Linked DNA regions of Homo sapiens. The protein of the gene in region 2 purifies or fractionates together with the protein of the main gene of each other region. This does not show direct contact. Each region holds a gene or a part of one and is shown on either strand. Other genes may lie near its edges.

Region 1 (3,650 bases), on a different chromosome or scaffold from region 2:
GCACCCTGAATTCCATTCCTGCCTGCTCCTCTCCACCTCCACAGCCATTCGCAGCTCAGACCTCCATTTCTTGCCCATAAAAAATGACCTCCCAGATCCTCTCCCTGCCTCCAGTCTCACACATCCTCCTCCTGACCACTTCCCAGAATAGCTTTTCCCAAAACTCCAGGCATTCAAGTGTGATCTTCATTTGTATTTTATCTGCATACCACCCTACTATTTAGTTGACATTTTTTCTCCACTTTGCAAAAGCATCCACGAAATGACAGGTTTGATATGGTTATTTTACCTAATGCATATTAAAATAAATATGTAACTTCCACAAGCACCCACACCCATCACCCACCTGCCTGCTTCCGTGTCCCTGCCTTCTCCCTGTTGCTATGGGTGAAGAGTCTGTGATCCTGGCAAGCACTTCCTTTCCACTTGGGCCCAGGATCCCATCCCCTCTCGCGTGTACAGGCCACCACTCCAACAACCCTCCCCTTGCTCCTGCACTATCAATTTCTCTCTCCACCGTTCCCACAAGCATACCCACATGCTGTTATTTGAGTTTAAAAAAAAAAAAAGTCTCTTCACCAGGCGCAGTAGCTCGCGCCTGTAATCCTAGCACTTTGGGAGGCCAAGGTGGGTGGATCACCTGAGGTCAGGAGTTCGAGACCAGCCTGGCCAACATGGCAAAACCCCGTCTCTACCAAAAATACAAAAATTAGCCAGGTGTGGTGGCGGGCACCTGTGATCCCAGGTACTTGGGAGGCTGAGGTGGGAGAATCACTTGAATCTGGGAATCTGGGAGGCAGAGGTTGCAGTGAGCCAAGATCACACCACTGCACTCCAGCCTGGGCGACAGTCAAGCTCTGTCTCAAAACAAACAAAAAAAAGTCTCTTTACCCCTCTCTTCCCTCCAAATACCACACTGTTTCTTTCCTTACCTATAGACTCACTGTCTTCAATTTCTTTTCTCCCATTCTCCAGTTAGGGTTTCACCCACTGCTCCACACAAAACTGTTTTTGTTTGTTTCGAGACAGTTTCACTCTCGTTGCCCAGGCTGCAGTGCAATGGTGCGATCCCAGCTCACGGCAAACTCTGTCTCCCAGGTTCACGCAATTCTCCTGCCTCAGCCTCCCTATAAAATGCCCGGCTAATTTTGTATTTTTAGTAGAGACGGGGTTTCTCCATATTGGTCAGGCTGGTCTCAAACTCCTGACCTCAGGTGATCCGCCTGCCTCAGCCTCCCAAAGTGCTGGGATTACAGGCGTGAGCCACCGCGCCCAGCCACAAAACTGTTTTTTTTTTCCTTTGAGACAGAGTTTCGCTCTTGTTGCCCAGGCTGGAGTGCAATGGCGTGATCTCGGCTCACTGAAACCTCTGCCTCAGCCTCCCGAGTAACTGGGATTACAGGCACCTGCCACCACACCAAGCTAATTTTTTTTTTTTTGAGACAGAATCTCCTCTGTCGCCCAGGCTGGAGTGCAGTGGCGCGATCTCGGCTCACTGCAAGCTCTGCCTCCCGGGTTCACACCATTCTCCTGCCTCAGCCTCCCGAGTAGCTGCAACTACAGGCGCCCGCCACCATGCCTGGCTAATTTTTTGTATTTTTTTAGTAGAGACGGGAGTTTCACCGTGTTAGCCAGGATGGTCTCGAACTCCTGACCTCATGATCTGCCCGCCTCGGCCTCCCAATGTGCTGGGATTACAGGCGTGGGCCACCACGCCTGGCCTTTTAAAAATATTTTTAGTAGAGACGGGGTTTCACCATGTTGGCCAGGCTGGTCTTGAACTCCTGACCTCAGATGATCTGCCCGCCTTGGCCTCCCAAAGTGCTGGGATTACAGGTGTGAGCCACCGCACCCAGCCACAAAACTGTTTTTAACATGGTCACTAATGACTTCTCCAGTGTTCAATCCAGAGGTCAATTTTCAGGCTGGACTTTATTGGACCCTTCAGCAGCATTTCACACAGCTGATGCTTGAAACCCCACTACATTTTGCTCCCAATCACATGCTCCTGGTCCTCCTCCTACCTCTAGCTTCTCATTCCAGTCTCCTTTACCGGCTCTTTCTCATCTTCCCATTCTCAAACTATTGGAGCTGCAGGGCTCAATTGTTGGACATTTCGCATCAATTCCTTTTGTATCTACACTTGTTGCCTTTGTGACTTCATCCAGTCTCGTGGGTAAGATTTAGTCCCTCTATAAGTTGACGACTCTTAATTTCCAATTTATCTCCAGTTTAAACATCTGCCCTGAAATCCAGGTTTGTGTATACTGTACACTGAACTTACATCTCTATCTAGAGGTCCAATAAGCATTTTAAACTTAATGTTCCCTGCCGGGCATGGAGACTCACACCTGTAATCCCAGCACTTTGGAGGCCGAGGTGAGCAGATCACTTGAGGTCAGGAGTTCGAGACCAGCCTGGCCAACATGGCAAAACCCCGTCTCTAATAAAAATACAAAACTTAGCTAGGCATGGTGGCGGGTGCCTGTAATTCCAGCTACTCAGGAGGCTGAGGCAGGAGAATTGCTTGAACCTGGGAGGTGGAGGTTGCAGTGACCCGAGGTGGCGCCACTGCATTCCAGCCTGGGCGACAGAGCGAGACTCCGTCTCAAAAAACAAAAATAAAAAATAAACGTTCCAAAACTGAGCTCCTGATATGCCCCCCACAGCTACCTTTACCCCATCTGTATTAGTAAACAGCAACTCCATTCTTCTCATTTCTCAGGCCAAAAACCCTACTCCCCTCTCTCCTCTCACACTGCATGTCTAATCCATTGGCAAATCCCTTTGACTCGACCTTCAAAATATATCCAGAATCCAACCACTTCTCCCCATACTCCCGCTGCTACCATGCTGGTCTAGCTCTCACCCTCTCCTGGATTACAGGAAGTCTCCTAACTGGTCCGTTTCTGTCCTTGTCTCCCTATAGTCTGTTCTCAGCATGGTAGCCAGAATGACCCTTTTAAAACATAAGCAGGATCAAGTCATTTGTAACCCCATCCCCACTCACATTCTCTATTTCCCTCTTGCTTTAAACTCCTCTTTAGGCCCAGGCACAGTGGCTCACGCCTGTAATCCCAGCACTTAAGGAGGCTAAGGCAGGCGGATCGCTTGAGCCCAGGAGTTCAAGACCAGCCGGGGCAACATGATGAAAACCCATCTCTATCAAAAAACAAATAAAAGTAAAAATAAAAATAACCTCCTCCTTAATGCTTACCATCATTTCACATACAATATACTTTCCTTTCCCTGATTTATTGTTTGTCCCCACTAAAATATAAACACCATGAGAGGAGTTTTTGGTTTTTTGTTCACTGCAATCATTTGTGACTAGACAGTGCCTGGTAGATAGCAGATGCTCAATAAATATTTGCTAAAGGATGAATTATTGATTTAAAAAATTGTCCGGCTGACCGTGTTGGCTCACGCCTATAACGCTAGCACTTTGGGAGGCCAAGGCAGGTGAATCACCTAAGGTCAGGAGTTCGAGACCAGCCTGGCTAACATGGTGAAACCCCCGTCTCTACTAAAAATACAAAAATTAGCCGGGTGTGGTGGCGCGCACCTGTAATGCCAGCTACTTGGGAGACTGAGGCAGGAGAATCACCTGAATCCAGGAGGCAGAGGTTGCAGTGAGCCAAGATCGTGCC
Region 2 (3,650 bases):
CATCTGACACCACAGCACATTATTTGTACCCCACCCCACCTCACCCCACAGCCAGCTTTTCAGGGCCATAAACACTACATCGCTTTCCCGTTCCAGGCTCCGAAAAGTCTTAGATCAGGTCCCTGAGACCCCAGACAGAATCCAAGGAGCCTTCCCTCGGCTTTTGAATGGAAAACTTGCAGGGCATCATGGATGGTTTTTCTCATTATGAAAACAAGAAAGTCAGGGCAAAACTCACAGCCAGACACAGACTTCAGTTTGGATTCAGCATGGGGCTTTCTCCAACAATTGGTCAAACTTACCCCCACTCAAAAGTCCACTTTACTCTAAGTCAGAGAGGCTTAGGTATGAGGATCAATAAGGAGAGGTAAGTGGCAAAGGTCAAAGATTCTGACTCTATAGAGCTGTGCAGTCTAATATAAATTACATAAATAAATTTAATGTAATTCAAAATTCAATTCTTCAGTCATATTAGCCACATTTCAAGTGCTCATGTAATTGGTGGCTTAATTATGTTAGACTGTGCAGATACAGAACATTTCCATCATCAAAGAAAGTTCTATTGGACAGCACTAATATAAAGCATTTAGATGTTTCATTTGAAGTAATGAGTACGGTGTTCTGGGAAGTTCTGCTGCTCTCCCCTGGTTTGTTGGGGAGGCTTTAGGTGTTCTGTGGGATGCTGAATAGAGGGTGTGCATTTTCATAATGAAAGAAGCAGTGTGCTGGAATTCTCATGTAAACCCAAAAGTTCTAAGGCAAAACTTACAAGGCTACAAAGTGGGCCATCTTAGCCTGCATACGTGGACACACAGTCTTTCCACACTTTTGCTTTCATCACAAGGACCATAAAGTCAGATACTGTAACTATTTTACTGACAAAAAGCCCACATGCTGCCTAGTCCTAGGCAGAATCATTCTCGAGATCCCCTTGGCTGGTTGTAAGCATTCCCCGGCGTTACTTTCCAGTGCAGCATCACTGAAGAGAAAAATATCTCAGGTCAGGTCAGCACTCTGGACAGCGACAAGCTCCTTCCCAGTGTATTTCAGCACTCCCGTCTGCCCCAAACATCCTTCAGAAGGAACTATCCCCTCAGAAACCACCAGGTGCCTGGGAAGGGACTTCCCACCCACTTCTTCTAACACCACAATCTTGTTGTCTTCAGAACAAGAGAGTGTTCAGCTATGAAGCTTCAAATACTCCTCACCAATGCCAAAAAAATTCACTCCTCAGCAAGCCAAGGTTTGCTACAGTCTGGCCCCAGACCGCTTCTTCCACTGCTGCAGCCTGGCCAATTCACCATGCCTGACCACACTAGCTGTTTCCCTCTTCTAGCCCTTTGAGTGGGCACTCCTTTCCCCACCAGAAATGCCATTTTCTTATCTTTGACTGTTCAGGTCCTACCCATCTCTAGAGGCCCAAGCCAACCCCCACTTCTCTTCAGAACCTTCCCCAAAGACTTTAATCTACACTGATTTCCTCTGTTGTCTGACATCCCAAAGCACTTCTAGTTTAGATCATGCTTTAGAAACTTAATTACCTATCAATCATCTTGTATCATTACCAGGTTCCTATGTGGGTTTTGCCAGAACTAGCTTTTGCCAGCAACCAGCCATGCAGTCACAAGTCAGTCATGCCACACTTCTGAGTCATTTCTTGATTAGTAAAATAACTATCTTGAACTAAAACATTTCTAACATTTTTGAGTTTAGGTTTCTCTCAGAACAAGTTTCCACCTAGAAGAGTGCAATGCACATAGCAGGGTCTTCAAATAATAACTGCAGATGCAATGAATATCTTACAAAAACAAAACGAGGGCATATCCCAGGGCTGAGGCCAGCCACAGAATCCTGGTTTAGCTCCCAATGTGGATGACAAAGGCTTCAATTCCACTCAGTGTGTGATGATAATCGGAAAGATATCCAGTTTCTGCCCTGACCTACGTCAGCATAGAAATATCATCTATGGCCTTGGAGGCATTTTCCTCCATAAAGACATTCACCTCCAACATGTGGAAAAATACCACACAATAGGTATTATAACAATGGCAGTGACAACAATGTCTTGCATATAAATTTATCTTATATAGGTCAGCCAACACCTGACAGCAATGTACTAACTTCATTTACTAATTACACACAAGCCCAGACAGACTAGGAAAAGTAACAAGAAGCATAAACATTGGTGGTGCCCCCAAATAAAACTCTGGCTGGTCTCACGAGTCAAGATGTTCCAAGAATTAGGTGGCAGGGAGACAGACTTAAAATTTTACCTCAATATTACACCTTCTGTCAAAATGATAGATAGCTATAATACCTCCTCATAATTAACATCCTGTTATTCTCAAATAATTTGGCTTATGGTCAACACACAGTAAGATATAGGGGAGATTCTTCCACCTTTGAACAACAAAAAAGGCCTAGAAATATTTAATGACTTTTACCCTGCAAATAAAGATAAAACTAGAACCAGACTTAGTTGGAATAATTCTACTAACATAGGCACCACACACACACACACGCACACACAGACATACATGCACACACATATCCCAATACACAACTCAGAGAATTCTTAGTAATATAAAGAAAAGAGTGATGAAATTCTCTGACCCTGAAATTGGAGCTTTCACCAAATGGTTGTTTAAAATGCTACTGCCAAAGCAAATTGGCCAGCATCAGTAAAGAAAAAGGGAATTTTCATCACTGGGAAAAGTTCTTGGAATTGCTCTGCCAGCCATTCACTCTCATCCCAGAAAATCACAAGATCTGAGAACAAAACTTAGCATCTGATCAATCCACTCCAGTTGGCCCAAACTGGATCCAGGAAAGCTAGCTCAGCATGGAGGCCAGAAGTCTCCCATCCTAGAAGGCCTTTCCCAGAGCTGGGCATCGTACGTGCTCAGAGAAGCAAATCAGGGAGACAGCAGTGCAACGAGGTTAGAAGAGTAAAGACTAGCACTCAGGGTTCTCTATGATTTTTGTCTCCATATACTGCTCCAGACACACCCCTCACTACTGAATTACATGCACCCACCACCCAAACCATGCCATTTACCTTCATGAATCAAAGATCCTCTACATAGTCCTGCTTTTGCACATGATTTTTCTCCAGTAGTCCTGGAGAAAGTCTTCAAGTCTTGATATCTCAAGACCCACCAGCCGGGCGCAGTGGCTCACGCCTGTAATCCCAACACTTTGGGAGGCTAAGGTGGGTGGATCACTTGAGGTCAGGAGTTCAAGACCAGCCTGGCCAACATGGTGAAACCCCCATCTCTACAAAAAATACAAAAATTAGCGGGGTGTGGTGGTGGATGCCTGTAGTCTCAGCTACTTGGGAGGCTGAGGCAGGAGAATTGCTTGACCTGGGAGGTGGAGGTTGCAAGGTTGCAGTGAGTCAAGATCGTGCCACTGCACTCCAGCCTGGGTGACAGAGCAAGACTCCATCTCAAAAAAAAAAAAAAAAAAAAAAAAAGACCCACCTCAAGTACTTCCTCTTGCAAGAGGCTTTTCCAGATCACCCAAGCCCAATGTGATCTTCCATCAGCTTTCTAGAACTTACATTCTGGAATTAGCAAATATTACTTATATTTGGACACATATCTCTTACCACCTGTAAGGCAGAAGACAGGGTCTCATAAGCCTCCACA

Evidence for each region.
Region 1: the proteins of NFASC (region 2) and TBC1D10B fractionate together in Homo sapiens (co-fractionation; one large-scale study listed by BioGRID). This does not show direct contact.

What each region holds. Positions count from the first base shown.
Region 1 is NC_000016.10:30,360,427-30,364,076, forward strand, and holds part of TBC1D10B (TBC1 domain family member 10B), read right to left. Parts: intron 1-3,650. UniProt on the Homo sapiens protein: Acts as a GTPase-activating protein for RAB3A, RAB22A, RAB27A, and RAB35. Does not act on RAB2A and RAB6A.
Region 2 is NC_000001.11:204,835,039-204,838,688, reverse strand, and holds part of NFASC (neurofascin isoform 1 precursor), read right to left. Parts: intron 1-3,650. UniProt on the Homo sapiens protein: Cell adhesion, ankyrin-binding protein which may be involved in neurite extension, axonal guidance, synaptogenesis, myelination and neuron-glial cell interactions.